Homo sapiens: one gene and its partner. The protein of the gene in region 1 binds, or shares a complex with, the protein of each later gene. Each region holds a gene or a part of one and is shown on either strand. Other genes may lie near its edges. The genes, in order: GPR3 and GNAS. A codon is read from its position in the direction of its gene.

What was found.
Region 2: the proteins of GPR3 (region 1) and GNAS are in contact, whole or in part, in a cryo-EM structure (PDB 9LYB), measured with the Homo sapiens proteins. Residues at the interface, in NP_005272.1 of Homo sapiens: Met75 (codon at 7,721), Arg134 (codon at 7,898), Ser137 (codon at 7,907), Leu138 (codon at 7,910), Tyr139 (codon at 7,913), Ala141 (codon at 7,919), Leu142 (codon at 7,922), Tyr144 (codon at 7,928), Tyr145 (codon at 7,931), Glu147 (codon at 7,937), Ile216 (codon at 8,144), Ile219 (codon at 8,153), Val220 (codon at 8,156), Arg222 (codon at 8,162), His223 (codon at 8,165), Gln226 (codon at 8,174), Ile227 (codon at 8,177), Leu229 (codon at 8,183), Gln230 (codon at 8,186), Arg231 (codon at 8,189), His232 (codon at 8,192), Lys244 (codon at 8,228), Gly245 (codon at 8,231), Thr248 (codon at 8,240), Arg300 (codon at 8,396); in NP_000507.1 of Homo sapiens: Gln35, Arg38, Ala39, His41, Val217, Phe219, Asp323, Asp343, Leu346, Thr350, Tyr358, Cys359, Phe376, Cys379, Arg380, Asp381, Ile383, Gln384, Arg385, Met386, His387, Leu388, Gln390, Tyr391, Glu392, Leu393, Leu394.

The regions. Positions count from the first base shown.
Region 1 is NC_000001.11:27,386,301-27,399,028, forward strand, and holds GPR3 (G-protein coupled receptor 3), read left to right. Parts: upstream 1-6,321; 5' UTR 6,322-6,437; intron 6,438-7,493; 5' UTR 7,494-7,498; coding exon 7,499-8,491; 3' UTR 8,492-9,514; downstream 9,515-12,728. UniProt on the Homo sapiens protein: Constitutively active G-protein coupled receptor that maintains high 3'-5'-cyclic adenosine monophosphate (cAMP) levels that a plays a role in serveral processes including meiotic arrest in oocytes or neuronal development via activation of numerous intracellular signaling pathways.
Region 2 is NC_000020.11:58,894,421-58,902,993, forward strand, and holds part of GNAS (protein GNAS), read left to right. Parts: intron 1-1,191; coding exon 1,192-1,264; intron 1,265-4,520; coding exon 4,521-4,565; intron 4,566-5,528; coding exon of another isoform or gene 5,529-5,535; exon of another isoform or gene 5,536-5,575; coding exon of another isoform or gene 5,576-5,610; exon of another isoform or gene 5,611-6,079; intron 6,080-8,573. UniProt on the Homo sapiens protein: Guanine nucleotide-binding proteins (G proteins) function as transducers in numerous signaling pathways controlled by G protein-coupled receptors (GPCRs).

The DNA of each region.
Region 1 (12,728 bases):
TGGCCTGGGTGCTTCCCATCACCTTCCTACCCTCTAAGAAGATAGAACAGAGCCTTCCCCCTATACCTCTCTTCCTCTATCCTAGCTGTTCTCTCTCCTAGAGGGTCCTCCTCAACCTTGGACTTCATTTGCCTGGCAAACTAATTCTTCAAGACACCACTACAAGACCACCTCCTGCAGGAAGCCTTCTGTGACTGTCACAGAATGAGGCTGAGCTGCTGCAGCACTTAGCTAGAGATCTAAATCCATCTGCTTTTTCCACTTCAGAGCCCTCCCCATCTCTTGCCTGAATGACTGCAGTGGCCTTCTAGTGGGGCTCCTGCTCCCCATTCCAGTCTGTTCTGCACTCAGCAGTCAGAGTGACCCTTTGATAACGTGTCAGTTCAGATCATAACACTTCCCTCCCACCAATGGCGTCTGTCTCACTGATCTGGGATTTCAGGCGCCCGCTGCCACACCTGGCTAATTTTTTGTATTTTTAATAGAGACGGGGTTTCATCATATTGACCAGGCTGGTCTCGAACTCCTGACCTCAGGTGATCCACCCGTCTTGGCCTCCCAAAGTGCAGGAATTACAGGCATGAGCCGCTGTGCCCAGCCAGATGTTTATTAAGTAACCTTACTGTACCATGTTGTGACAATCTGTGTACATGTTTGTCTGTCCCACCGGTCTGTAAGCCCCCAAGAGCTCCCTTCTGTCTCACATGATCTTGCCTCTGCCCACCTCGCCTCTCCTCCCTCTCCCCTTTGCTGATTTAGCTGCAGACACACTAGCCTCCTCTCTCTGGTCCTCACACCCATCAATGCTTTCTCTTCTTGGGGACTTTACACTTGTCGTGTCCTCTCCTTAAGACTCCTGTTCTCTCTTCACGTGACTTGTTCCATGACCTCCCTCCCTAAAAGAGGCCACCTGGTGATCCTACATCCCAACAGCTGCTCTTTTCTTCAGAGCAGGTAGCTAATGTATAATTAATTACTCATTTGTTTCCTAGGCTGTAAGCTTCATGAAGGCAGGAACCATGTTGATCTTCCCTCCTTAGTGAACTCCTTGCACACAGTAAGGGCTGAATAGATGTTGGGGTTTTTGTTTGTTTGTTTGTTGAGACGGAGTTTCGCTCTTGCTGCCCAGACTGGAGTGCAGTGGTGATCTCGGCTCACTGCAACCTCCGCCTCCCAGATTCAAGTGATTCTCCTGCCTCAGCCTCCTGAGTAGCTGGGATTACAGGTGCCTGCCACTATGCCTGGCTAATTTTTTGCATTTGTGGTAGAGACAGGATTTCATCACGTTGGCCAGGCTGGTCTCGAACGCCTGACCTCAGGTGATCCACCCACCTCGGCCTCCCAAAGTGCAGGAATTATGGGCGTGAGCCACCATGCCCAGCCAGATGTTTATTAAGTAACCTTACTTACTATGCCATGTTGTGACCATCTGTGTACATGTTTGTCCCACTGGTCTGTGAGGCCCCCAAGAGCTCCCTACTTGAATAGATTTTAAGGATCTATTTGTAGATTGTCCATCCCTCCAGATTAAAACTGAAGCTTGGCCTGGCACAGTGGCTCATGCCTGTAATCCCAGCACTTTGGGAGGCCGAGGTGGGCAGGTCACCTAAGGCCAGGAGTTCGAGACCAGCCTGGCCAACATGGTGAAACCCTGTCTTTACTAAAAAATACAAAAATTAGCCAGGCGTGGTGGCATGCATCTGTAGTCCCAGCTACTCGGGAGGCTGAGGCAGGAGAATCGCTTGAACCCGGGAGGCGGAGGTTGCAGTGAGCTGAGATTGCACCACTGCACTCCAGCCTGGGCAACAGAGCAAGACTATGTCTCAAAATAACTAACTAAATAAATTAATTAATAAAACTGAAGCTCATTGAAGATGGCAGGGATTTTTGTTCACTGCTGTATTCTCTGTACCCGGGAAATAGAAGATGCTCAATAAATGTGTCTATTGACTGTTGAAAAGGCAGGAATTTGGCCAGATCATCTTTCTGTCCCTAGCACCCACTGAACAAACCCTAAGCCCAGGGGAACTGCCAGTAAATAATGGCTGAATGAATGGGTCTATGCTAAGAATATGGGCACTGATGATGCCTAGACCCTTGGGTCTTAGACAAGGGACTCAGGTGTGGGGATTATCTATGACTGACACACACACACACACACAAGCACACACGCACGAACACCCCCTCCCCGCCAATTCCTCCCTCCCCAAGGGATTTCTCCAACTGGTGAAGACAGAAGAGGCAAGGATAAAAGTCTCACCTGGAAGTGAGTCCTCACAGCCATCTGGTGGCCACCTGGAGAACTGCAGGTATTGTCAGCCCTAGTCAAACTTTAGCCTCAGCCCCTTCTGGGAAGAAGGTGACATCTAGGCCAGAATGGAAGGCACACTGGACTTGGTGACAGATGGACCTGGCTTCAGATCCCAGCTCTGCCATTTACTATGTGATTTGGGGCAAGTCCCTTGGCTTTCCTGGGCTTCACCCAAGAAATGGAGACATGGTCCCTCACTTTTGCAGGTTGTTGTAAGCCTTGGGCTCTGGCTGGGCACCTGGTAGGTGGGAAGGGTTGGAGGAGGTGTCAAGGAGGTAGGGACAGAGGGCATGAGGAGAATAGGAGAGAAGGAACTATCTCTTCCTTTAGAGAGCAAGTATGCGGGGAATGGAGACCTGATTGGTATGAGCACTTTTGGTGCGTGAGGGAGAGCACATGAGGTTCACGTGAAAACCCATAGCCCCCCTTTAGTCTCTTGGCTCTCCTGGGTTTCTCGGGGTTAGAAATGTCACTGCATGCCGGGTGCGGTGGTTCATACCTGTAATCCCAGCACTTTGGGAGGCTGAGCAGGGTGGATCACCTGAGGTCAGGAGTTCAAGACCATCCTGACCAATATGGTAAAACCCTGTCTCTACTAAAAATACAAAAAAAAAAAAAAAAAAAAAAGCTGGGCATGGTGGCGGGCACCTGTAATCCCAGCTACTTGGGAGGCTGAGGCAGGAGAATCGCTTGAACCCAGGAGGCAGAGGTTTCAGTGAGCCGAGATTGCACCACTGCACTCCAGCCTGGGCAACAAGAATAAAACTGTCTCGGAAAAAAAAAAAAAAGGAAAGAAAAGAAATGTCACTGCACTCTCTTTTCCTCTCTGGCTGCCTTAGGATCAACTTCCCTTGCAAACAACAGGATAACTATCAGGATCAGGAAGTTCATGACCAATACTTCAGTGGAAATGATGGTCTTCCGTGTCCTTCACCCTGGGAAGACAACAATACCTAAGACAGAAAACTAGTCAAAAAGTAGAAGACCACTCTGGATTTCATCTTTGTATTTAGAACCCATTTTGGGCTGGGCACAGTGGCTCATGCCTGTAATCCCAGCACTTTGGGAGGCCAAGGTGGGCAGATCACTTGAACCTACGAGTTCAAGACCAGCCTGGGCAATGTGGCGAAACCCTGTCTCTACAAAAATTACACGCCTTAGCCAGGCGTGGTGACACGTGCTTGTAATCCCAGTTACTGTGGAGGCTGAGATGGGAGGATTGCTTGAGTCCAAGAGGTTGAGGCTACAGTGAGCATTGATTGCACCACTACACTCCAGCCTGGGTGACAGACTGAGATCCTGTCTCAAAAAACAAACAAACGAAAAAAAAAGACAGAACCCATTTTGGTGGTGTTAAGACAACTGGCTTGGTTATGATTTATGATTCCTTGGATTATGCAAAGAAAAATTAATCCAAACACAGACTTGCAAGACATAAAAGAAAAAGACCTCAAGAAAACAGCTAAAGGAACTCAAGAACAGAATGACGACAGCCAGGGAGTCACAAGAGTGTGGTGCTGGTGCTGGCAAACAGGAATGGCTTTATCTGCAGCAATGGTGAAGATTTTTCACCAGAGGATCAATAAGCTACGAAAACTTAAAAAATATATAATTGCCATTCAGAGTAGTAGAAGATAGTCCCTGATACCCCCCTTTGATGCCAACCTCCCAGCAGCCTTCACCCATCGCAGAGACCAGAACTCTGTAGGGACCCAGCTCTGATGGGGGAGTAAATGGATCCCTGACCCTGAGTCTTGGGGCCCTGATGCCCTTGGATCCTCTCTCTGACACCCCCACCTTCCTGGGCACCAGGCATATTACTATTCTCTCTGTTTTCCTTTTTTCCTCTGGTTGTTCCCTTTTAGGTCAATCATCCAGTCCATGATTATTTCTTCAATACCCATTACATATCAGGCACTGTTCTCTAGCAGAAATGGGACATAGTCAGTATCCTCTTGGAGCTTAGATTCTAGTGGGGCTGACATGTAGTAAAACAAACAAACATGAATTCATTTATAATTTCAAGAGTGCTTCATCCTCCAAAAATGAATAAATCAAGAGAAGGGGAGGGAGAGTGATGGGGAGGCCAGTGGCGATCTGAGAGTTCAGAGCAGCCTGTTTCAGAAGTAATTCGGGAGCAGAGACCTGGATGAAGAGAAGGGTTGTTGTCAGAGGGGTCAGGTGCAAGAGCCCAGGAGGAGGAGCCCCTGAAGCCACTCCTCACTCTCTGCTCCCGCCCCTGGGTGACATTATTTACCCCTAAAACATCAGTTGCCACCTGCATGCCTACACCTCCCAGGTGTCCCTCATTATCCAGCTGTAACATTGATGGCCAATGGCAAGTAGAACCCACTCAACAACCCCATGAGGCCGGTACTAATATTATCCCTGTGTTTTAGATGAGGAAATAGGCACAGAGAGCTGAAGAAACTCTCCAAAGTCACCCAGCTAGGAAATGGAGAAACTGAGATTGGACACTTCCACCCCCTAAGCCCCCTAAACTCACCACATCCAACCTGAAATGAATCCTCTTCTCCAGCTCCGACCCCCTCCTCCTCCCATGTTCCCTGCCACTTGACCTTCTGCTGCCTCACACTCAAACCCAAAACCTGCCTGGTGGAGGCTGACCATGGGGGCTGCAGTGATGGTGCTGTGATGGGGGTGTCCAGTGGGGCCTGGGATCCTCAGGCCTCTTAACCTCATCTTCCCCTCCCACAGGCCTGCATGATTCCAGGGAGCATCAAGGCAAGAGACACAGGGAGAAGGAGCAGCCAGTCCCCCTGCCGCAGGACTGGCCACATCTGTCACATCTGGAGAAGTCTGCCCAGAGTGGTTCCCCTGGACTAAGGGCAGATGGCGTTGGGGAAGAGGGAGCTCTTTCTCCTTGCTCCACCCATCAGGATGCCTAAAATAGGAGGCTGAGAGGGGCCTGCCCTGAGGACTGAGCTGCCAGGCTTTCTGCTTCCAAGTTCTTCCCGGCTCCCCATCTCCTCCTGCTTCAGGGAAGTGCACCCCTCACCCCCTCCACGCTGGCTTTCTAGATACTGGAATAAATAATTCAGGTTTTGAAATCTTGCCAGGCCCACCCCTCCGGTGCTGTGAGGGCGCTATTGGGCTGACATGAGTGACGTCACCCAGCTCTTATCCCAGCCCCGGCATCACGGGACTTGCCCTGGCAGCAACTTACCTGCCTGGTCACTGTCAGTCCAGACCCTCTACCCTGTGCCCCTCACCCTGGAGCCCACTCACCACAGCCACCTGCTATCTTCGTTCCAGGGCCCCACAGTCCTCATGGCTTAGCATTGTCGCTTCAGTACCCCAGCCATTCTGACAGGGTAATGGTGACCTGAAGTCACCTGGACACTCCATGTTCCCAGGCCGCTGCCTCTGCCATCCCGGGGTCCCTGAACTCCCCCCTGCTGCATAGTCACCCTGACACTGCCATGGTTGCCCTGAGGGCTTCCCCTCTACCGTTAGCGTCCCACGGCCATCACCCCCCACCCCAAGATTCTGTCACCATGCTAATGTCGTCACTGCCACCCACCTCCCCGCTCCCTCGTGCTCCCTGTCATCGTCACCTCAGGGCCCCATCATCTTGGAAACCCTGTCATTCTCACCAGGGAAGCCCAACCAGCCCCATCACAAGCTCTTCCTTCGTCACCTGGATCTCGTCAGCCTCTCTGCCACCCAAGGGTCCCATCACCCCACAGCCTAGCCGGGCCCCCTTTCCACTCTTCCACCACGTTCCCTGCAGCCTCTCTGAGACTTCAAGGCTCTCGCACCGGCGCCTCTGAAACCCCCGGCCCGCAGAGGGCGCCGCGTCAAGGACAGCGCGGGCGGACTCGGGAGGGGGCGGGGCCGCAGCCACGGTCGCTTTTTATGAATGGGGGAGCGGGCGGTGCGAGGCCTTATTACTATGCCGCGCAACGCGCGCTGCGCCCCAGCGCGCCGCGCCCATTGGCTGATCGGACCGCTGACGTCACCGAACCGGTGGCCGGGGGCGGGGCGGGGTGACTCACGCCGCTTCTCCCGCGGCCGCGGGGGCTTCTCGGGGTCCACGCACGCCCTGCGCCGCCAGGACCCGAGCGGAGCCTCCCCGCGGCCCGGCCGCGCCTGGTCCTGAGCGGTGAGTAGCGGGCCCCGCCGCGGGCACCAGGGGTCCTGAAGGGCACGCAGGATGCTGGGGCACTGGGCCGGCGGAAGGCTCCTAGTGGCCGGCCGGGGTTCGAGTTCGAGGTGGGAATTCTGGGTTTAGGCGATTCTGGGTTAGCAGGCTTGGGCCCAAGTGCTCGAGTGCTGGGGTTGAGTTGGATGACCCGGCGAAGGGTAAGCATTCCTGCAGGGACCCGAGGCCCTGGAGGGACTGATGGTCATCTGAGGTTAAGCCGGCAGGAGGCGTCTGGGGCAGGGACCCAGGGGTCCGAACAGCAGGAGGTGTCCAATTTAGGAATCCAGGTATCCAGGCAGGAGGCAGAGTCAGGCCCAAAATCCAGGTGTCCGGGCAGAAGGAGGCATCTGACTCAGGGATCCAGTCTTCCAGCAGGGGGGTCTGCCCAGAGACCTAGAGATTCAGGCGGAAAGAAGGGTCCAGCCAGGAACAGAAGTCTGGGAGGGTGGGGGGTGGGGGGCTGAGTTCCCAGGTGTTACCGCGGGAGTGCGGGGTGATGGCTGGCGGGAGCTTCACGCGCATTCCCTGGGGGCGGAGTCTAAGGCTGGCAGTACTGAAAATCGTGAGGGGTCTGGGAGCCTCAGGCACGAGCTAGCATCATCATCTCTGATGGGAGGGAGCGGAGCTGCTCAGTCTCCCTGATGGGGTAGATGTTTCCCTACCCCAATCTTGAGCCTTCGGGGGCATCCCCTGGATCCTATGGCCCTCTTCCACTTATAGTACCCCTTCTTCTGTCTCTCCTCTGGTCACACACGTGGGAAAAAGAGACCTGCAGGACCTAGGACAGGGATCCCCAGGAAGAGACCCCTGTTTAGAGGCCTGGGGGCATTGGAGGGGACAGCGGTATCCTGGGAAGAGCCCCAGGGCATGAATGTGGGGATAAGGCATTGGGACCCTATCAGGTATCCTGAGGAGAGACTCCCACCACGTATCCTGAGAAGCACCTCACCCCCTCCAGACCCCAACTCCCATCACCCAGCTTGGTCAGCTTCTCACAAGGCCTTTCTCCTGCAGGTACCATGATGTGGGGTGCAGGCAGCCCTCTGGCCTGGCTCTCAGCTGGCTCAGGCAACGTGAATGTAAGCAGCGTGGGCCCAGCAGAGGGGCCCACAGGTCCAGCCGCACCACTGCCCTCGCCTAAGGCCTGGGATGTGGTGCTCTGCATCTCAGGCACCCTGGTGTCCTGCGAGAATGCGCTAGTGGTGGCCATCATCGTGGGCACTCCTGCCTTCCGTGCCCCCATGTTCCTGCTGGTGGGCAGCCTGGCCGTGGCAGACCTGCTGGCAGGCCTGGGCCTGGTCCTGCACTTTGCTGCTGTCTTCTGCATCGGCTCAGCGGAGATGAGCCTGGTGCTGGTTGGCGTGCTGGCAATGGCCTTTACCGCCAGCATCGGCAGTCTACTGGCCATCACTGTCGACCGCTACCTTTCTCTGTACAATGCCCTCACCTACTATTCAGAGACAACAGTGACACGGACCTATGTGATGCTGGCCTTAGTGTGGGGAGGTGCCCTGGGCCTGGGGCTGCTGCCTGTGCTGGCCTGGAACTGCCTGGATGGCCTGACCACATGTGGCGTGGTTTATCCACTCTCCAAGAACCATCTGGTAGTTCTGGCCATTGCCTTCTTCATGGTGTTTGGCATCATGCTGCAGCTCTACGCCCAAATCTGCCGCATCGTCTGCCGCCATGCCCAGCAGATTGCCCTTCAGCGGCACCTGCTGCCTGCCTCCCACTATGTGGCCACCCGCAAGGGCATTGCCACACTGGCCGTGGTGCTTGGAGCCTTTGCCGCCTGCTGGTTGCCCTTCACTGTCTACTGCCTGCTGGGTGATGCCCACTCTCCACCTCTCTACACCTATCTTACCTTGCTCCCTGCCACCTACAACTCCATGATCAACCCTATCATCTACGCCTTCCGCAACCAGGATGTGCAGAAAGTGCTGTGGGCTGTCTGCTGCTGCTGTTCCTCTTCCAAGATCCCCTTCCGATCCCGCTCCCCCAGTGATGTCTAGCTGAGTCTTCATGACCCTTCAACCCTGATTACTACAGAATTCCAGAATGTTAGGCTCTCCAGGGCTTCTTTCCAAACCCCCAGCTCCACACCCCCCAGACCCAGCTGGTTCTGGAGTTCTAGGACATTGGGTGTTTCAAGGTTCTGTTCAGATCCCTATGGGGGCCCAGCTGGCTCCACGGTTCCAGAATGTTCAGGTGGTCAGTGTTCTACTCAGAAATGTCTCACAGCCCAGCTGGGTTGCAATTCCAGAATGCTGGGAGTTTTACAGTGCCATTCCAAGTCCCAGATGTCCCTCTTCCCCCAAACTTGACCTTGACCATGTCACTTTATGTTTGAATTTCTGAGCTAAAGAGTCAGAGAGATTAGTCACATAGTTGCCTAAATAGGAGAGAGAAAGATTATATATGCACATATACAAAGACAGTGTCTATTTATGATTGATTTATTTATTTATAAATTTACTTATGGGTGGTAAGGGGCAAAAAAGAGGCCCACACCTTGATATCCAGGCCATACCAGGGTATCCCTTGTCCCTTCACCCCCATTTCTGACCTCAGTTCCTGGAGGGGGGAAAGGGTGAAAGAGAAACCACGTATTTTGTTATTATTTTGGATTATTTTTTATCGAAGAGATCATAGAAACCAGAGCCTTCTCCCCAGGCCTGCCCTCCTCGGGTTTGGAAGGGGAACACACCAGCCTCTGGTTTTTTATTTTTTTAAGAAGCCATCACCTGAGCAACCAAAAATTCCTCTGCGCTGGGGTCCGACTGCCCTCTGGTGGCCATTTGGGGAAAACTGCAGCCCGGCCAGGCAGCTGGGACCAGAATGCAACCCCAGCTCCACTCCAGCCTGGCGTCCAGGGCCACAGCCATGGCCTGGGGGCCAAGCCTCACCCTGCGGTGCCCTAAAGGAGGGGGGGCACGAGCCAACACCCCACCCCTCTGCCAACCGGGGTATGGCCCCCAGTGCATTCCCTGTTCCCGTCTCCAACCCAACTCAATAAAAAATGATTTTGTCATAAATATGTTTCCCTATGTGTGTGTGGAGGGTATGGAGTGGGGCCTGATGGGGGATGGCCTGGAATGAGAGGGTCAAGCCAGGCCTGGGGGGCCTGTTGGGGGATCTGGGGAGCTGGACAGAGGGTGGAGGGTGGCTGGCAGGTGACTCCTTCTCAGATGTCAGTGCCCCTCTGCTCAGACCTGGGCACTGACTGGCAAGGACCTTACCTCCTCCTGGTGACAGGAACCTGGGTGCTTGGCTCTTCCTGGGTCAAGGATGCTCACATCCTGCCCACACCGGCCACTGTGGGGCTTAGACATGATGAATATGCTCAAAGCATGTCAGTTTCCTTAATAATAATAGGTCCTACTTTTTTTTTTTTTTTTTTTTTTTTTGAGACAGAGTCTCGCTCTGTCCCCCAGGCTGGAGTGCAGTGGCGTGATCTCGGCTCACTGCAAGCTCCACCTCCCGGGTTCACGCCATTCTCCTGCCTCAGCCTCCCGAGTAGCTGGGACTACAGGCGCCCACCATCACGCCCGGCTAATTTTTTTTGTATTTTTAGTAGAGACGGGGTTTCACTGTGTAAGCCAGGATGGTCTCGATCTCCTGACCTCGTGATCCACCCGTCTCAGCCTCCCAAAGTGCTGGGATTACAGGCGTGAGCCAACGCGTCTGGCCAATAATAGGTCCTTCTAATCATGGGTGCCTACTGTGTGTCTGGCACACATGCTACCTCGCTTATGCCTAATAAGCATCCCATGGCACCGGTAGTGTCTTCTCCATTTTACAAACGAGGGAGCTGAGGCTGAGTGAGGGACAGCAGCTGGCCCAAGGCCATACAGCTAAAAAATGGTAGAGCCAGGAACATCTGTTTCCAGAATCTGTGCTGTGTAGTGAGTGATTTCCTTCCTTCCCAAGCCTGGAGCTTAGGACATTCTGGACCCTGATTTTTTTTTTTTTTTTTTTTTGAGACAGAGTCTTGCTCTGTTGCCCAGACTGGAGTGCAATAGCGTGGTCTCGGCTCACTGCAACCTCCGCCTCCTGGGTTCAAGCGATTCTCCTGCCTCAGCTTCCCAAGTAGCTGGGATTACAGGCACCTGCCACCACGCCTGGCTAATTTTTGTATTTTTAGTAGAGACTGGGGTTTCACCATGCTGGCCAGGCTGGTCTCGAACTCCCGACCTCAGGTGATCCGTCCGCCTCAGCCTCCCAAAGTGCTGGGATTACAGGCGTGAGCCACCGCACCCAGCTGGACCCTGATTTATTTTGGGGTTCATTTTTAGGGCCACATTTGGGAAGTGGTCGGAGGGGGTCTGGTCATTTTGGAGTCAGAAGAGCTTTTCTACGCAAAGGTGAGTGACTATCAGTGTGTGCCTTTGGGGACATATGTGTGCAGGACCCAGAGTTTGGGTACTTGAGGAGAGGAAGCTGACCCCAGAAAGAATGTGTCTATCAGGCCAGGGCAGCAGCAGGTTTGGGGTGTGGCTGAAGAGGAAGCTTTGATTGGCCAAGCCTCCCAGCTTCCCAAGCCTTATTTTTGGGCAAAGCTTGGAGGTGGGGCTCTTGGAGCATTTCTGGCTCACCCCTCCACATACAGACAGGAGCCCGAGGCCCAAAGAGGAGCAACCATTTGCTCAAACTCGCACAGCTGTGCCAGGCTAGGACACAGGCCTTTCTCCATTTCCCTGGCAGAGTTAGAGCCCTTTTGTCTGGTGTAAAGATCCCTCCCTTGGCCAGGTGTGGTGGCTTACGCCCGTAATCCCAGCACTTTGGGAGGCCGAGGCGGGCAGATCACCTGAGTCAGGAGTTCGAGACCAGCCTGGTCAACATGATGAAACCCTGTCTCTACTAAAAATACAAAAAATTAGCCGGATGTGGAGCCTATAATCCCAGCTACTTGGGAGGCTGAGTCAGGAGAATCGCTTGAGCCCGGGAGGCAGAGGTTGCAGTGAGCTGTGAGCCAAGATCGCGCCATTGCACTCCAGCCTGGGCAACAGAGTGAGATTCCGTCCCCACCCCCCAACCAAAAAAATCCCTCCCAGTAGTCTGAGGAGAGTCGTCATGCCAATAGGCCCAGGCACAAAGCAGGGAGGCCGCACCAGGTCAGGCCAAGCTTTATTCTATCCCCACCCTCCTGACAGGTCCCTGGGAAAAGTCCCTACTCAGCAGGCCCCTCCCCCACGCCAAACATTCCATACCATCACCGTGGCTTTGTCAAATGGGTACCATTGCTCCTCCCCATTTTACAAAAGAAGAAGTTGAGGCTCCAAGAGTAATGGGCCTTCATTCATTCACTGCTGTCCTTGTGGACAGCTTAAATTCTAGCTGGGGGAAATAGTAATACAAAGTTTTTCCCAAAATGTAATATTACACAGTGGTAAGTCCTCAGAGAAAGAGCAGGGGAAGAAGGATGGGGAGGGTGTGAGTAATTTTTAAATTAGGGTGCCCAGGAAAAGCCTCCCTGAGAGGTGACATTGGATTGGTCCAAAGTCAGAGGGTTGGTAAGGAGTTGAGCTGGGATTTGAACCCAGGCCCATTTGACTCTAAATCTCTTTCTTTCCTGGATGAGGGAGCGTGTTTCAGGAACAACCCAGAAACATCAAGCAAGGAAACTGGGGTAAATCCCCAGGCTGGGGGAAAGCAGGGGGTCTCCAGGTTAAACCCAGACCTCTGGAGGCACAGCACAGGGCAGGGCCTTGTTGCTGCCTCCACCATCATGCTCCTGAGGAGCCCCACCAAGGTCCAGAGGAGAGAGGCCAGGTGCCCGTCCTACCCTGGGTGAGTCTCAGCCCTTTGCTTCCCCAGCCCAGCTTCCAGCTCCAGGGCCCAAGAAGGGACCTGCCGCCATCCTTGTGTCTGGGAGGGCCTGTGTCGGGCCCCTGCACTGAGGGGCTTCCTCTGTCTCTCTGGGGGTGGCTGTGGGCTGGAGCTGAGGTGTTTCTGGCAGACTGGATCTGGGGTCTCTGCTTTGGGTCCTGGGCCTACCTTGAGGGGTGTTTGAATCTGTCCCTCAGGTTGGTTCCTGTGTGTGTGGTGGGGCTGGCTGGCTTTTCCCTCCTCCCAGGATTCTGCAGATCAGCTTAGCACTTCTTCCCAGTACCTCCACTCCATGCTTCCTCCAGGAAGCCTCCCTGCCTGAGCCCTTTTGTAGCTGTGAGAATGTGATCCATACAATATGCCTTACTACACCTCCCCTGAGTAAATATTTGTAGAGAAGTCTTCCCTCCCTCCTCAGAA
Region 2 (8,573 bases), on another chromosome or scaffold:
GATATTGATTACGGGCTTGTGAAAAGGCAAGTAAAGGAGGAATGCTGTGCTATCTGGGCATTAAAACAAAACAATACAATTAAAAGTTAAAAAGAAAGAAAAAGGTAATAACAGATTTGTGTGGAAGGAGGGCAAAAAAACTTCACACGTGGATTATCTGTTGGAGAATGTGCATTGCAAAAAAGATGCAAAATAGCAATCCTCCCTCTAGCTTGATGGAAATGTGTTTTTTCCATGAAACATATATGTATTTTTACAAATGAAAGATGATTTAAAATGGAGGCATGTGTTTCTACTCTTTGAGTTGGGAAGGGCTTGGAATCTTTCAAATTCAGTACTTCCCAGGGATAGTTTTCCTTTTGATTAAAGTTTTGTTCTTATGTTACTTTTTACTGTTGTTTTTGCAGTTTACCTAATGCTAATAGGGTCTCAGGAACTGTATTTGATGTTAAAGTGTGGTTTTTCCAGAAGATGACAGATAATTGATGGTCTCCCCTTTTCCTCAGCAACATAGTTGTACCCAGAGGGAATTTATCTTTAGAAAGATATAGTTTGTGAGGAAAGAGGAGGATGGATAAGTGGATAAAATGTAATGCAGTTTTAGGGGTGGATTTTTAAGTAGCCCAAGGGGTAGGAAACCTGCACAGAAAGAAGCTGCGTTGTGAAAATGTTGAGGAGGAAAGTGCTGCATCGCTACGTGATGTGGAAGAGACTGCAGTGTCTGGGCATTGTTGGGAATCCCGGGTATTTTAACCATGAAACATCTGACAACAAATTATGTGTCTAGATATGTTTATGTGTGAATGTTCATGTATCAGGGATTCAGTTTCACAGTTTTAACTTCAATTTTCTTGTTTACCCCACAAATGACAAAATTGCGTCATTCCTTCTCTTTGCCCCTTTCCAACACCACCCCACAATTTTTTAAACAATCAAAAGAAAAATTAAAACCAGCAAACCTTAAATTCTTGTTTGTTATTTGGATGGTGAAATACTGCAGGTAGACACTGAATTGGACATTGATTTCCTTTTCTCTGCGTCGAAATGTCAAGGAAAGTTGCAAGTCTGTGATTTTGTGTTTGGTTTTTTGCATGTTGCTTCTATGGAAAAACAAAACAACAACAGCAGACCTCCCTGCCCAAAGTGTTAAAATGCCTCCTTCATAACCTGAGACTTACTTTCATTTTCTAGGTGCTGGAGAATCTGGTAAAAGCACCATTGTGAAGCAGATGAGGATCCTGCATGTTAATGGGTTTAATGGAGAGTAAGTGTCAAATCTGTGCAGGGGGGCACCAAGTAAGAGGAACAGACTTTATACTAACCTTTAGGAAGTATAGGTGGGCTTTGGGGGCTGGGCAGCCAGTTTTCACTTAATTTTTCCTGATTTACATATTAGAAAATCCTGGGAAGGGCTCTTTAGGGTCCCTCACCCCCCACCCCCTTGGATCTTTGGTGCAACAAATACTACTGATGAAAGCACCAGTGTTTGTGACAAACATCTCCCTATCCCAAGAAAATCGTGCCTGGTTGCAGGGGACGCTTGACAGCACTTGGCCCCGTGACAGCCCCTCTCCGGGCCAGGTCCCTGCCACAGTCTTCGGACATCACTGCAGTGTCTTCAACGTGGCTTTGGCCGCCCCCTCGTCCGGCCCACGCTGATCACTGCAAATTCACCCCACCCCACCTCACGCAGATTTCAATGTAATGAACCAACACAGGATGTTTTAAACTATTAGGGAAACATTGTTTCCATAATATTCTCACCAGAAACAGATGTGGAAGTGGCAGCCCGTGTTTACAGTTTCTCATTTTTTTTGTCCCCCTTTAAATTACCATTATGGGTAAATCATTGTTTCCCTTTAAAACAAAAAACAAATCAGTACCCCTGCCTACAGAAAAGAAGAGGGAACATTTATTTAAAGGATGGAAAGACTGGGAGTTAGGCACTCCCAGCCTCACTGAGGGGCATTTTTGCCTTTGAGAAGTCCTCCCAGGTATCCTGGTATAGCACAATGTGGCAATCCGTAGTGGGAATGAAGATTAAACAGGAGAGACTTTGTATTAGACCTGTGAGACGAGTTAGGAAGCCCTGCCTGGCATGGGGAATGCAAACAGGGAACATTCAATAAATCGGGGAACTTGCTTTTCTCCCCAAGACCCCAGATGGGGCCTACCCATCGTTCTCGTGTAACAAAACGTGTAAAAAAAAAAAAAGAAAAAGAAAAAACAAAACAAAAAAACTAAGTTGACCAGTCTGTTTTCACTGGTATGAGAGCATTAACCGCACTAGATTTCAAGCACCTGAAGGCACTAGTTTGTAATTACTAGCTGGTTGGCACAGTCCTGTTCCCTTTCTTAAACTTGGATTCGATTGAAAATTTAACCTTGAGTTGCTTCAGCTTCCATTTCAAAAGGGGAGTTGGAGTCAAGGTGGTAGCGTTTAATTATACCAACCACCCCCCAAAAAAACAAACAAAACAAACAAAAAAACCTTTACTAGTCACTAAGCATCCAGGAAACAAAGGTGAACTTTTTCACCTTTCAGAGCAAGGCAGGCAGCTCCTTATAGAGAATTCTAGAATTTGTTAGATCAAATAATTGTTTAGAGAAGGATGACATCACCCATACGAATAGTCCTGTTAGTTGAGGATGCTTTTTCTACTTTAACCCTGAATTCAGAAGGATTGGTTGGGATGCACAGGGGGCTTCTTCACTCATCTGATTATGACTCTCAATGGGTTATCAACATGCACATACGTGCTATTGAGTAAGTCAGCATCACTTGTCACCAACCAATTCCGAAATTAATTCTTGACACACCCCTCGATAAAGCCCTGCCAGCGGAGACTGCCATCCTGACAATAAATAAATAACCCTGAGACAGACTTCCAACCATGAATCTGTCATTTGAAGAAAAATCTTGCATAAATTTTCCCCCTGCAACTTGCAGGAGTACTTACTTATTCATGAGAGTAGTTAAGCAAAAATAATTTGACCATGTATCCTCTAGATAAATATTTTGATGAAAACTGGACATGGCTAGCATTTTTCAAAGATGCAGCAGCCACTGTTTACCTTAGCTTGAGTCGGATGGAAGCTAAGTCACCTTTGAAATAAATTACTGACAGCTTCATTACAGATTGCCCTAAAATTTAAAAATTTTTATAGAAAGGATTCTCCTCCCTAAGCGAGCCAGCCTGTAACACCAGGCAAGGGTTTTAAACCAGAACTTCTCTTTTCTGTTTTCTTTTTGGAAAGAGGAAGCAACATTCCCAGTTTGCCTTCTTTGCAGACAAGGGCACAGATACGTTAAATTTAGCCTGTGAGAGGGTTTACAGGGGTATTCCTCATGGGAGCCTAGATACCTTATTTTTATCTCATCCAACTGCCTCCTTTTTTCTTTTTCCTCACTGCGGTATTGCAACAAAAGCTATTTCCTTCTTAACTAGGAATTCCCTATGAGACAGTGACATCTGTCCCTAAAGGGTGGTCTGGGTGGTACAGGGTTCTTCCTCCCTGATCTTGCGTTTTGTTAGGGCTCGGCTGAGCTATTAAATTTGCCTTAACTCTCTGCGGGCTGCCATGCTGATTACATTTTTAAGAGTAAGATAATACTGATTTGACCTTCAGAAATACAGAGGTTGGATGCGGATTTTCTAACTCAAAACTAACTCTGTTTCTTACATTTAGTGCCAGGAACAAAACAAAAACAAAACATAAACACCATTAACATTGGTTGAACTAAGCTAATCAATTACCAAACTGTAGAATGCTGCCCTTCGGCCTTCAAGGAGGAATTCCTACTGTTTATGAAGATCGGGTTTGGGTTTTTGGTTTTTTTTTTCTTTTTCTTTTTTCCGTGGTGGTGGTGGGTGGGCTTTTGTTCTTTTTGTTTTTTCTGTGGTGGTGGTGGGTGGGCTTTTGTTCTTTGAAATTTTTTTTGCTACATCACAGTCCAGACATAGTTTAATGACAATTTATGGGGAACAATTATTTATAAATAAAACCATTTTATAGGTAGTTTCCTTCCACTGCAAGAAGTGAGGTCATTAGTTTTGCAGGAAATCCTGGGCAGAAATCTCCCCCGTTTATGCCTTTATGCCTTAAGTTACAACCTTGGGAAGATTCTGACCTGGGAGAATTAGGAGCCTTATGCGCTGCCATATTCTCCAAAGAATTGTGAGATAAATCACTGCTTTAGCTCCCTAATGCGTGTACGTTTAGTGAAAGCACAAGAAAACAATTATCCATCCCTCCTGTCTCCGACCAGAGTCTCCAGAGAGCTCTGTTAATACTGCAGCAAAGGTGTGGGATTCTTCCCCCATGGCCTGCAGTCTCAGTGGATGTTCCAATTTAGCCAGAAAGGCGACCTAAGAATTGCCGGGAGGATGGATGGCTGGCGCGCGAATTGTTGCTTTTGCTCTTGGCTGATGGTTGAGGAATGTAGAGAGACTGTGTGGGGTTTGTGTGACACTGCGGTGCCTTGCAGATTAGGTGAGCTTTCAATCTCTCTTTAAAAGGGGCGGCGAAGAGGACCCGCAGGCTGCAAGGAGCAACAGCGATGGGTAGGCACATTCAAAACCAGAAAAAATTGTTAACAAACCAAACAAACATGAAGATCATACTGGGAAACTGAGGCCAGAGACCCGGGAAGAAAATAAAAATCATTTAAAGGACCATCAGCCATATTGGCATACATTTGTGAATAACACACAATTTCCTGACATTTTGGAGCAAGTAAAGTGCGTAACATAAATTTTTTTGGCCATGCTTAAAGTAGAATGAGATCCAGCTGGGGGAAAGTTATAGATTTCAGCCTTGGATGATCAGTTTAGGATTTTGAGAATTGATGTTTTTCCATATGGTTTCTGTTTTCCCCCAGCTCTCCATTTGAACCAGCTGCTTGTTTTAAAACTATCTACTAAATTCCATCTACCCACTGGTTGGTCTGATTTTAAAATTTCAGACCTCTTTGAAACAAAATTTGTTTCCTTTATTAAAATATGCAATGCTGCACCGTCTTTAATTTTGAAAAACGCCTTGGTACCTTGCAGCAGGTCGTTAAGAATCATCTCGAAAAGCCTCTGGCCTTTTAAAAATGATCAAATTTATTTGAATCAAAGGCACTTTACGTTAGCTTGGTGGATAAGGAAATTCATGATGGCATCTTTTATTTTTCCATTCATTATCAAATTATTTTTTCTTTGCTTCCTGCATCCCCACACCCATCACACACACACACACGCACACACATGCACATGCATACACAGACACGCACACACATCACACGCACACACAGCCACACGCGCCGCGCACACACACACGCATGCCAGGTAACCACTCTAGCTCTGCTGTGTATTTAGCATGCAGTGGTGGAGTGGCTATTTCTCATGAGACCATCCAGAACCATTGACTTAGTTTAGGGCATCTCAAAGAAACAGCTTCTGTGGCCGGGGAGGGGAGGGGCAAAGATATTGGGGTCTGGGGACAAAGTAACTGACACATGTTTGTTCATCTGTTTCTTTTAGAATATAATATCCCTAGATGATGGCTACAGTTTCTCATCTTCCCGGCTATGTCCTATCACAATTTGCATGCTGGAATTGCTCGGTCTTAGGAACTTCTAATAAGAATACTATTCTGTTATCTGAGGGGGGAGGGGGGATGGGGCCCCTGCTACCTGACCTTAAACGATGATTGAAAAAACGAAAAATGAACTGAAATCCTTAATTGGCAGAAATGTAGTATGACAACTATCCAAAAAGGCATCTCTATAAGAAATGACTAATTGACAATCTGCTGTACCAAAAGTTGGCATTTGAGCAAGATATGACAAGTCCTTAGTGAGCAACCTACTGTGTACTAGATGTCCTGCTAAACCCTTGAACCCTACTAATACCTTGGCCTGCACGTCTCTCTCACTCTGTTCTGCAAGTCAATATAAGTATTAACATTCGTGATAAATAAAAATTCTCTGCATGTTTCAGCAATCCCTGTATCTCGCGTCTGTCTTCTGTCTTCCTTCCTTTGTCTGTCTTTTCCCACCAAAGCACAAGGATTAAGGTGGAGACCTGAATAGCTTCCCCCACCACTTAGTTAGCTGAAGCGGGGGGAGGGGAGGAGCTCTTAAAAACTGAACGCATCCCATCTGCTGTATACATAGAAGGGGGAGGAGGAGGAACCAAGACCCTAAAAGTACTTCCAGCCTTAGTCCCAATTTTGTAGCGAATCAGAATTCTAGCTAATGGCATATGTTTTGCCTTTGTTGAGTAGTTTAAAGACATCTAAGGAATTTTCTCTGAATTTCACAATCAACGTTAAATTCATTAAGCAATAGTAAAAGTGATGATAAACCCGCCAACCCCCAGTATAATATCTCCATCTACATAGTAATTGCTTCAATGGAAGAATTTTATGTTTTAGTATTACACACCCGAATTAGATTTTAGATTTCTATTTTAGCTGTTTTATACTTGATATACTCCCACACCTATTCACATACGTAGATGAATACTGAACACGTTCTCAAAATATCCGTATTTTAAGACGGGAAGTTTTCCAATTATCATACTACTGCTTAGACCAAAATATCAAACTGAATGAAAGAAACTTGTTTCTGGAAATACTTTCTCTTGCTGTATGCAGATTTGGATATTTAGTACCCGAATGTATTTAATTTTACTATTGTGGAACCTCAAAACCAAAGGTTAATAGCTTTCATTACCTGTGAAGTGGAGCCTGCTTTTAATGAATGGGAATAGATTTGCCCTAGGGGGTTTTGGGTAAATTCTGAATTCAAAAGTGAACATTGGGGACCATCAAACACATGTCCTTTTAATTTATAACATCTAAATAATCGATGTTAGACTGTAATACCAAGGCCGGGGATTCTTAATTTCAGAAATGAGCTTTGATTCTGCACATACAAAGCAGACAGTCGCACAGAGCGGTCAGGACTCACTCCCTTTCACTCTAAGGTGGTTGCTTTAAGAGTCTGGGGGCCAGAATCAGATTTCAGATTTGTACACAAGGCCTGAAGCTCGCTCACCTCCCTGTCATCTGTGTTTCTGAGATTCTCCGGACCTGCAGCACTTTTACTTAAATGGCCCTGAGGGGATTCCTGGCAACATCTGTCCCCCCTCCCCACCCCAGACACCCCCCACCACTAATGAGCGTGGCCCCTCTGAACTTCCCCAGCTCTTCACCCAATGTAGAAGAGCAGTGGTGCAGTGACCTGTGAAAGGGGCTTCACGTAGGAAGGGGGCGAGATGGGATCCTTCAGCAGGTGAAGGCCCAGAAGTACACAGACATTTATTCAGAAAGAATAAATTTGTAAGTATAATTCTTTGAGAAAGGAAAGACCAAATGATTTGTGGAAGGCCTGTCGACAGGCCCGCACTTGACCCCACCGTCCGTCCCCGCCCCCCACCCCTGCTGCTCCACTGACTGCCCTGCCCTGCTCGTCTGCTCGTCTGCTCTTGCTAATTAACCTCCCTTCGCCTTTCCTCTGCCTTAACTGTCGTGTTCTAGTCTGGAGAGATTATATGTTTTAATTTCTACTCCAGTCTATGAATTGGTGAATCAGCCAAGTGAATGCTTCAAAAACTGGGACTCTCAAAAGATTAAAAAATATATATATACAAACCGTGAAAAAGATAAACTCTGTCCCCTCCATCTCCCATTGGTTTCTGCCTCGGTGACTCCCCCCCTCTTGGCCTCAGTTTCCCTGTCAGAGAGGCAGGACCGTAGCACCTTTTTTCCGCATGACAACGCCCTCACCTCCCAGGGCCTAACAGGTACAGCAGGTGTGCTGTGTGTGCTGGTTCCATTTTTGGGCTATAGACCTGATGAGATACATACTCCACACAAGAGGCCTTTTCTTGCCCTCTAAAAACATAAACTCGAGAACCTTCCCTGGCTGTGCTTCTAATGAAGGCTAGTTTCTGAAAAACATACAGCATTTGGATCAGTGTAATGTGGTACAAAAATTAACATTCTGTTATGGTCCCCAGAAGCCAAAGGGTGTGTCCTTTACCTGTGGGACCAGTGACCCTGAATATAGATCATTCCATAAAGACCACGCAGGCCATCCCATGTGGCTGAGTTAAACTCAAGGAAAAGCTACAAAACCTTCAACCTCTACTTACCAGAGGGATCTGACCTCCCCTCCCCCTTAGATTATAAGGCCTTCTAGGGGGTGGAATCTTATTTGATTCCTATTGCACATGGACCAACATGCACTAACATCATGAACTAGAAGTTTCATTGCTGCTAGCTGCAGTGCCTGGAGCATCGCACATACGACTTTTTTTTTTTTTTTTTTTTTTTTTTTTGACAGAGTCTCACTCTCGCCCTGGCTGGAGTGCAGTGGTGCCATCTCAGCTTACTGCAACCTCCGCCTCCCGGGTTCAAGCAATTCTCCTGCCTCAGCCTCCCTAGTAGCTGGGATTACAGGTGCATGCCACCATGCCCAGCTAGTTTTTTTGTGTGTTTTTAGTAGAGACGGGGTTTCACCATGTTGGCCAGACTGGTCTCCAACTCCTGACCTCAGGCAGTCTGCCCGCCTCAGCCTC